Linked DNA regions of Homo sapiens. The protein of the gene in region 1 interacts with the protein of each later gene in a biochemical or structural test. Each region holds a gene or a part of one and is shown in the gene's direction. Other genes may lie near its edges.

The links.
Region 2: the proteins of HMGA2 (region 1) and E4F1 form a complex in vitro, tested with the Homo sapiens proteins (one study listed by BioGRID).

The regions. Positions count from the first base shown.
Region 1 is NC_000012.12:65,946,321-65,953,624, forward strand, and holds part of HMGA2 (high mobility group protein HMGI-C), read left to right. Parts: exon of another isoform or gene 1-1,804; intron 1,805-2,114; exon of another isoform or gene 2,115-2,387; intron 2,388-5,062; coding exon 5,063-5,095; intron 5,096-6,035; coding exon of another isoform or gene 6,036-6,110; exon of another isoform or gene 6,111-6,216; intron 6,217-7,304.
Region 2 is NC_000016.10:2,233,417-2,236,372, forward strand, and holds the end of E4F1 (transcription factor E4F1), read left to right. Parts: intron 1-21; coding exon 22-231; coding exon of another isoform or gene 232-235; intron 236-465; coding exon 466-574; intron 575-754; coding exon 755-972; intron 973-1,166; coding exon 1,167-1,365; intron 1,366-1,442; coding exon 1,443-1,585; intron 1,586-1,664; coding exon 1,665-1,727; intron 1,728-1,799; coding exon 1,800-2,156; 3' UTR 2,157-2,326; downstream 2,327-2,956. UniProt on the Homo sapiens protein: May function as a transcriptional repressor. May also function as a ubiquitin ligase mediating ubiquitination of chromatin-associated TP53. Functions in cell survival and proliferation through control of the cell cycle.

The DNA.
Region 1 (7,304 bases):
CACCTACTACTGCCTGGCAAGAAGCAAAGGATCTAATTATATTAAAATTCTGCTGCTTACATTAAACCCAGAGACTCATCTGCACAGACAGCCATGTGAAGGGCTTCTTTCTTTCTAAGGTCAACTTGAGACCCTTTACATAATAATCATGTTTGCTTTACCATACATTGTGCCTAATTTTTTTTTAAAAATTAAGTTTGTAAGCTCAATTCAAGCCTCTTTTTATTTAATGTTTAGATTAGTACTAAAATGAACTACTAATGTCTGGGTCCTTTGTTAGCAAGGATTTTCTTTCAATACCTACCAGAAGGAGTGGCTTAGCTGTCTGAGTATCAGCTTTAAAATACCTAGACTTCCTGGAACCATAGATTGTATTCTTAGGAGGGCTGAGGAACTTCTTAATTATTCTGAAATAGGTGGAATGGCAGACCATTTCCTACACAAGTGTCTCTCTACAAAATCTTAAAAATCCAAATACTCTGTGGATTTTAAAAATTCAGTAACTTTTTTTCTTCCATTTGGAGAAATGTTCATTTGCTGTATGACCTCAGAAATCCAAAAATATGTCCTTTCCTTTTGCTTATCTTCTACAGTTTCTTAGCATGTTGTACCCTAAGCTATTTGTATATACTTTAACAATGATATTTATTTGCTTAAGCATTATACTTTCAATTGTGGCTGAGCTAGTCCATTCTAAGGGCTAGACTGCAGAGAACTACTCACTGAAATCCATGTGGTTAGAAAGAGCCCTTTTAAGCTTCACGTGGTATGTTCAACTCATGGGGTCTTTGAATTCTCACCACTTTTTTTTTTTTTTGAGGCAGAGTCTTGCTCCGTCACCCAGGCGGGAGTGCAATGGTGTGATCATAGCTTACTGCAGCCATAACCTCCTAGGCTCAAGCAATCCTCCCACCTCAGTCTCCCGAGTAGCTGGGAGTACAGGCATGCGCCACTATACCTGGCTAATTATTTTTAATAGAGATGAAGTCTTGCTAGGTTGCCCAAGCTGGTCTCGAACTCGTGAGCTCAAACAATCCTCTCAAAGTGCTGAGATTACCGGCATGAGCCACCACACCCGGCCACAGTTTCGTTTTAACATCTGTTAATCCAAAAAATTTCTTCAAAGTCCTTTGGTGATTTTGTCAATGCTGCTATTGATGTTTTGTTCTGGGAGGAAGCTCTCTTTCACCCCATTGTATTTTAGAAGTTTCAATGCAACCATGGAATGAGGATTTTCATTACAAGCTTTTTGAAAGGTGCAATAGTCTCAACATAATGAACTCAAAATCTCAGTGCATTGAAGGGTTTGCATGCCAAGTTGACCAAGTGCCTAAACTGTATAAACTCCCTATGTGCACACTTAGAATTGGATCATCAGATTTGTCTAAACAACTTGAAAGGCTTTGCTATCTGTTCACTGAACAGTCATTATGATGTACACACCTTTAAGAGGGACTCAGCCCCTCCACAACTGATAATGAAGGAAGAATCTCCAAGTGAGGTGAGGCAGCTGGACTTTGCAGGTCTGACTCTTGTCCCCTGCGATTCACTTTTCATCAGCAACCTGGAGGAATCAGAACTAGGCCCTGCTGAACAATCTGGAGATGAAAATCAAAGCCGGGAAGTACAGCTTCTCCTGGATTGGATCTCGATTTGACTTTTTTCTTTTTTCTTTTTTTCAAGGAACAGACTGGGTTTCTTCAGAGCATTATATCAGGGATTAAGAGAATCAGTAGACTCGGGTTGTTTTGGTTTTAGAAAAAGATCTCAGACGATTATTTAAATTCCCTATGCCTTGGTTTCCCTGTGAGAAAATGAAAACAGTAAGGCCTGGACCCTCCCAGTAACAAAGGGGCAGATGTTAAAAATATAAAGGATTCTAGCTTTCATATAGGAAATGCATGTGCAAAATATTACTCATTTATTAAGGTGCATGAAAATTTACTGTTAACAACACAGAAGACTAATATGTATCATTGATGTTATTCAGGTCTTATAAAACTCTAGTGGCCAGTCGTGTTTTTAATGCCAAGAACCCCGAGGAGCAACTGGTTTCTAAGAATCAACACTTAGTTCTGAGCCGAGAGATGCCCCAAGGAAGATAAGAGACTTACAGTTTGTTTGGCGTCCAAAAAGCTTTCCAGACAGCAGTTTGTTTCCTTTCCCTTTTTATGAATGGTGGTAGTATTATGCTTCAGTCTGCGTTTTCTACCAAAGCCATTCATAAAAATAAAAACAAAACAAAATAACAACAACAAAAACTTTCTCGGCACAGTCTGGAGCCATTGGGTGCCAGAGGCTGGGAAAACATCCTGGCAGCCATAACCCCAACCAACATTGAAAGTATTCAAGGGTCTGTTTGTTTGGTGGTCTGAAAAGTATGAAGTGCTGTGTCTGAGGGTAGCTGGTAGAAGTTCCGTGACACGGACTAGGCCGGGAGCCAGGGCTGGCAGAGATTCAGACATTGTCTTTCCCCTCATTGAAGTGTCAGGACCTAATTCATGGAAAATTGGGTGAGCTGGCAGCTCTTTCAGAGGATTTCATTGAGCTGCAGTGTGCAGGAGTCACATGAATGCGGGAGCCTCTGCCAAAAAAGGAGGGGGATTTCTGAGCAGTAGGAACCAGTCAGCCTGCAAGAATGTATGTGGATTTGAAACGGTTTGGGAGTAAACATGTGTACAGGTGTAATCAACAGGGAAAAATGGGAGGAAGATGAGTGCTCTCTTCTTCCAAATGACCCTTTGGAAATGAATCCTCTATTAGCCCACGCTTTTGTGTCCTAAGAGGCAAGAAGTCCTCATCGTTCTTGGTTCGATTTTCCCTGGAGAAAACATCATCTCAAAACTTGGGCTTTTGTGATGACGTCATCTTTACTGTGATTTAAAGTCAAATGGAAGAACGTCTTTTCCTTTGAGCAAAAGTACCTTGCCATTTATTTTATTTTTATTCTGTCCATCTAAAAAAAAAAAGCTCTAATGATTTTTATATGGAATTTTTAATGTACCAGCAATAAACCACTGTACCACTGAGAGGAACTCTGAGAGGAAGGGGCTCTCAGAATGAATGAACAGGGGCTAGTGAATAGTGAACGTATCCTAAGTGCTGTTATTTGGGAGAACTGGTGCAAGAAAGCATGTCGCTATCCACATCAGAGTACCTCAGGTGTACTCACAAATCTCAGCGATGTGTAGATAGAATAATACATGCCTATATTCAGACATGAGAGTGAGGACTGGAAGCAAATAATCCATCGAAAAGCTCAGGCTTCAAATCCATCTTTTATAATGCCAAAGAAATAAGAAGTATTCTCTAATACTCGATTGGAAAGTTAGGCAGGCAGAAAAACATTCCCTCGGATGTTTCACTCAAAAGAGGAGAGTTTTGCTCTACACATACAATAGATACAGATATAACACAATATAACACAATATTCTTCCCATGATACCACGAAGAAACTGAACAAACTCACAGAATTATTTGCAAATCATAAGGGACTTGAATGCAAAACATTAAAAGAACTCTTACAACTTTGTTATGAAGAGATAGCAAATTTTTTTTAAATGGGCAAAGGATTTAAATAAACATTTCTTCCCAGGAGACATATAAATGGCCAATAAGCACATGAAAAGATGCTCAACATCATTAGTTGTGAGAGAAGTTCAAATTGAAACAGCAATGATGTTTAACTTCACATCCACTTGGATGTCTACAAGCAAAAAGACAGGCAATAACAAGCATTGGCATGTATACGGAGCAATTGGAACTCCAGATTCATTGCTGGTGGGACGGACTGCAAAATGGTACAGCTGCTTTAGAAAGCTGTCTGGCAGCTCCTCAAAAAGTGAAACAAAGAATTACAATATGAACCAGCGATTCCACTCCCAGGTACATACCCAAGAATGAAAACATGTTCGCACGAAAACGTGTATATAAATGTTCATAGTAGCATTATTCATAATAGCCAAAGGGTGGAAACACCCCAGATGTCCACCAACTAATGAATGGATAGGTAAAATGTGGTATACCCATACAAGGGAAAATTATTTAGCATGAAAAGGAATGAACTGCTGATGCTACCACATGGATGACCCTAGAAAACCCTAGGCCAGTGAAAGAAGCCACACACAAAAGACTCTACATATATAGTATGATTCCACTTACATGAAATGTCAGGATAGGTAAATTCATAGAGACAGAAAGTAGATTCATGGTCACTTAGGCATGGGAGGTGGCTAGGGACGTGGAGGGTAGTGGGGAGTAACCACTAATGGGTACAAGATTTCTTTTAGAGGAGATGAAAGTGTTCTAAATTAGACTGTGGTGATGGTTGCACAACCCTCTGAATATACTAAAATATACTTTAAATGAGTGAATTATGTGGTATGTAAATTATGTCTCAGTGAAGGTGTTTTAAAAAAATAAAATATTAACAAATTAGGTACCTTCACTCCTCAGTTTTGTGATATATAGGCTAAAAACAAAGTGAATCAAACAGTTAAGTTTCTTTCAAGCTAGTTGGCTTGTATGCCAGAATTTAATTGGGAATTGGAATTGTTTTCACTGAGATAACCTATGTTGTATTTCCTTAATATAGAGAGATCATGAATAGACATTTTTGTTTTTTTTGAGATAGGGTGTTGCTCTGTCACCCAGGCTGGAGTGCAGTGGCATGATCACGGCTCACTGCAGCCTTGACCTTTCTTGGCCCAGGTGATCCTTCCATTTAGGCCTCTGAGTAGCTGGGACTACAGTTGCAACGCCACCACACCCTGTTAATTTTTGTATGTTTGTAGAGAGAGGGTTTCACCATGTTGCCCAGCCTGGTCTACAACTCCTGGGCTCAAGCCATCCGTCCGCCTCTGCCTCCCAAAGCGCTGGGATTATAAGCGTGAGCCACCATGCCTGGCCAAGTATAAACACTTTTAACATTGGATATACCAGTTGAACTTTATACTTTCCTCTTTCCTTTGCAGACAAGTATCTGTATTTAAAATATGTACACCTAATTTTTTCTATAATGTATATTTTCTTTTAAAATATATCTTTTTCTTTTCCTCCTTAGCCACAACAAGTTGTTCAGAAGAAGCCTGCTCAGGTAAGACATAGTCATTAATTTTTTTCTCCCAATTAATATAAAAAGTGAAATATGTACTGAAAAATGTCCCCAAACTAAACCTTATTTCGCATTTTCTTACTTTTGGTTATCGTCCTGCAGTATTCCTGAAAATGTGTTGTAGCCTTCAAAGTTAGGAATATATAGTCTGCAATCGTACCATGAAAACCTCCCAAAATGTAAGGTCTTAAGTGTACAAAGCAAATATAAATTCTTTTAAAAATAAAACTATTTTATTACATTGCCTCATATGTAAAACAAATATTTAATCTTATCCTATATTTTACCAATTCTTAAACATCAAATTTTGTCCTTCCAACTGACTGTCTATATTCTGTTGACACCAGACTTATATTTAATGATTCATGACTGGAAACATATTTCTTCATTGAACAATTTCATAATATTTGATGATCCCAAAACACTCCAAAGAATGCTAGAATACTTGGAAATTAAGTTATACTAACGTGCAGACTGATGCATTCTTAGATCTTATTTAAATAACTGAATCACAGTCTCTGAAGTTTTTGGCAACATCAAATTGGAAAATAGCTCTACGTCTCTTGCCCCATATTCCTGGAGCACCTTGTCCTCACTATAATCTGTACATAGAAACATTAAAAAAACATATTTATTGAGGAAGCATATCTTGAAGAAAACAAAACTGAAGTATAAATTAACCAGGATTGCTAATAATGTGAGCCAGTATTAAAGTATAAGAACGTCCTGCTGTTCTCTTCCCTTCTGTATGTAAATAGTCATTGGAGATCCAGGTGGTATCATGCTGAACCTGCTAAAATAAGTAGTAAGCAGTGTCATGAGCTATCAAATTAAGTAGAACTCTTTCATGTAATTTTAAGTATCCATGAAATTTTTTTCCCTAGAAGTCTTTACAAATCTACCTTGCATCCTGTTTTCTTAGGTCAATGTTGCCTTGCCTGGGAAGGACCACCCGGGCAATCTTATATATCTACTGTTCTCTAAAAATGCCACTTAGAAGAGAATTGAAACTTCCAAACACATGAAAGGATCCAAGGAAAGTGTCTTCAAACAATTACATATGAGCTTTAAGTGGAATAAAAACAGAGTTACCATGAAAAAAATCATTTTCATTGCTGCTCCCATACCTAAAAGCTAAGAGTGGGAGAGGGGTGCTAAAAAAAACCCAGTGTTTGTGCGTCTTTAAGCAATATTTAAAAATATATACATATAAACAAAAACTTGACATTTTCATTAGGAGAACCCAAATATATTTAGCCTCTCATCCTTTAACTGTACAAAAATCAAGAGAAAGTAAATTGATAATTCTGTGCATTTGAGTCAAAGGATGAGGCAGAGTTCACATTTGCATCACAGGCTGTGAACTATAGATTAATCACTTTATGTGGTTTGTTAATATTGATTCAGCCCTTGTGCTTAGTGTCATAGGGAAGATGAGTCAAACAAAGAAAAACAGTCACTGCATCTGAGAAATGTATTTATATGTATATGCCTGTGTCCTATCCAGTGGTATGCTGGAACCAGCCCTTGTGAGCAAATAGTGAACATCTCTTCTGAATTCTGTGTTCAGTGATGTCAAGTAGGTAGCTTGAAATCCACTATGGTGGGAGTATTTACACCATGGAAAGTGACAAATACTACAAATCAGGACTTTTTTTTTTCCTGAGGAGCAAGTAGTTAAACATTTACCTCCCCAGCATGGCCCCACCCTTCAGCGATTCTGTTTATTTGGTCTGGAGATCCATCATATTTTTTATGAACTCCCTAAGTGAGTTTAATATGCAACTAGAGATGAAGACACTCCATGAAAACACATGAGAAGATGTCTGAACATTTGTTGAGCAAATGACCACAGAATGTCAATGTGTATGGGACACACGGGGGATACAGATGAATGAGTGGAATGCCTCAGGTTATCAAGGGGATGATAAGACTGGAATTTTCTTGTTTTGTTTGATTTTGTTGTTGTTGAGTTGCAGAAGGGAAAACTGAAACATAAATTAAGGGAAAGAAATTACAGATGAGATGAATGGCATATAGAAAGGTAGAGAGGCAAGAACAAATACATCATAGGTGGAGATTATTAATATGGCTAGAACTGATTGCAAGTTGGACATTAATACATCAAGAAATAATATAAGTGAAATCACAGTTGTTTTTCCCAAGAGAATTCAGAATCTCAAAGAAGCCA
Region 2 (2,956 bases), on another chromosome or scaffold:
CTCTCTCTGCCTCCCCTGCAGCCCCCCGTCTCCCAGGAGCTCCCCTGCTCCAGCGAGGGCAGCCGTGAGAACCTGCTGCACCAGGCCATGCAGAACTCCGGCATCGTCCTTGAGCGCGCTGCTGGGGAGGAGGGTGCCCTGGAGCCAGCTCCTGCTGCCGGGTCCAGTCCCCAGCCCCTGGCAGTGGCAGCCCCGCAGCTGCCGGTACTGGAAGTGCAGCCGCTGGAGACAGTAGGTGCCAGCACCACCTGCGGGCTCCTCCCAGGGCTGGATCCCAGGGGCTGTCCCCACGCTGGCCTTCGCCTCCCTGAAGTGGCTTTCTGCAGTGACTTTGTCCATTGATCTGTTTACTGCCTTCCCTGGGGCCACAAGGGAGCCTGCCAGGGTGGGGCCCATGGTTGTGTTCTTGGTACTGCCAGGGCACAGCCTGCCCCGGGTGCTGGAGACCTTCCTGTGGTTCCCCAGCAGGTGGCCAGCGAGGCCTCAGCGGTGCCCAGGACCCACCCATGTCCTCAGTGCAGTGAGACCTTCCCGACAGCAGCCACCCTGGAGGCCCACAAGAGGGGCCACACCGGTAGGTGATGGGTGGGTGTGTGGCCCATGGCAGTGGATGGGCTATAGGTGGCCGGGGTGCTTCTGGGTGTCCAGGGTGGGTCCATAGACAGCAGGGAGCCAGGGGATCTGTGGGCAGGTGGCAGGCGGCCTGGCGGGCCCGCGGGTGATGGGCTTGGCCTGATGCTGTGTGTGGCTGCAGGGCCGAGGCCGTTCGCCTGCGCGCAGTGTGGCAAGGCCTTCCCCAAGGCCTACCTGCTCAAGAAGCACCAGGAGGTGCACGTGCGTGAGCGCCGCTTCCGCTGTGGCGACTGCGGGAAGCTCTACAAGACCATTGCCCATGTGCGTGGCCACCGGCGCGTCCACTCAGACGAGCGGCCCTACCCTTGTCCCAAGTGTGGCAAGCGCTACAAGACTAAGGTGGGTCTCTGGCCGCAGGACCCTGGCGCCTGATCCCCCCATCCTGCTCCCTGGCCGTGGCCCAGGTGCACCCCCTTCCCTGCCTCCACCATGCTCAGTCTTGACCCAGCCCCTCCCTTGGGCCACAGGCGGGAGGGGAGAGCTGTAGTCTGTTGTGGCCAAGGCCAGGCTGGCACTGACAGGTGTCTCCACAGAACGCACAGCAGGTGCACTTCAGGACACACCTGGAGGAGAAGCCGCACGTGTGCCAGTTCTGCAGCCGTGGCTTCCGAGAGAAGGGCTCACTGGTGCGGCACGTGCGACACCACACAGGCGAGAAGCCGTTCAAGTGCTACAAGTGCGGCCGTGGCTTCGCCGAGCACGGCACGCTGAACCGGCACCTGCGCACCAAAGGTCTGGGCCGGTGGAGGTGGGAGGGGGAGGGGAGGGGGCCGGGGCTTGCCTAGCCCTGACCGAGTCCCCACCCACAGGGGGCTGCCTGCTGGAGGTGGAGGAGTTGCTGGTGTCTGAGGACAGCCCCGCGGCAGCCACCACCGTCCTCACGGAAGACCCGCACACAGTGTTGGTGGAGTTCTCGTCCGTGGTAGCTGACACCCAGGAGTATATCATCGAGGTGGGTGTGGGGCCCTGGGGCCGTGCTGGGACCCAGGGGCAGCCAAGGCTGACCTCTGTCCTTCTGCCCATCTGCCCAGGCCACTGCGGACGATGCGGAGACCAGTGAGGCCACGGAGATCATCGAGGGCACCCAGACAGAGGTGAGGGGTAGGGCAGGCGGGGGCGGGGAGGCTCCCTGGCACAGCCGCTCTTGCTGAGCCGTGGCCCTGCAGGTGGACAGCCACATCATGAAGGTGGTGCAGCAGATCGTGCACCAGGCTAGCGCCGGCCACCAGATCATCGTGCAGAACGTCACCATGGACGAGGAGACGGCGCTGGGCCCAGAGGCGGCTGCCGCCGACACCATCACCATCGCCACCCCCGAGAGCCTGACAGAGCAGGTGGCCATGACGCTGGCCTCGGCCATCAGCGAGGGCACTGTGCTTGCCGCCCGGGCAGGGACAAGTGGCACTGAACAGGCCACTGTGACCATGGTGTCATCAGAGGACATCGAGATCCTGGAGCATGCAGGCGAGCTGGTCATCGCCTCGCCGGAGGGCCAGCTGGAGGTGCAGACGGTCATCGTCTAGCATGAGGTCTGCGGGGTCCTGGCCGGGCAGGGACAGGGCAGAGGACTCTGAGCGCCCCACCCATGCCTGCCTGGCCTGGTAGAGAAGATGGCACAGGATGGAGGCGCCCCAAGACGGACAGTGTACATAAGAGTTTCTTGTTGCTTTACAATAAAACATGAGAACCTGCAGCTTGTGATGTTGTGGCAGTGGCAGCCTCCGCGGCTGGTGCCACCACCTTTGCCCAGGCCCCCGCAGCAGCACCTGCCTCCCAGGCCACTCCTAGACTCACGTGCCTGGCCGCCCCACCCAGGGGCTTCTGCCAGCCCTGGCGGCGCCTTGGTGCTGTGTGGGTGTCATTGGCATGTTGACCAACAGCCTCCTGCCCTGCCCAGCTGGAGCTGTGCCCCCAGCTGCGCTGCCTGAGGCCTGTGGGTGGGTGGGAGGACCAGGGACGGGGACAGGGAGATCTGGGAGCCTCGGCCTCCACCGCAGGGTGAGCAGGTGGAGCAGCAGCAGGAGATGCTGGGTAGGGAGTGTGGCTGGTCCTACCTGCGCTGCCTTGCTTTCCCTGAAGGGATTCTGCTCAGGGAGGCAGAGTCTAGGCGACCTAATTTCTAGGGGCGAGGACAAGAACACAGCCGCACCGGGATGTGGCTGACCGTCTACCTCCCTCCTAGGGGGCTGGCAGGGGCTTCTGGGACGGTTTTGGGACAGGTCTGGGGCACCAGAACCGGCTCAGGCAGGTCTCCCACCCCTTACCCTGGGGGTCTCCATGGGAATGAAAGCCAGGAGTTCATCAGGCACCCAGCTGAGTCGAG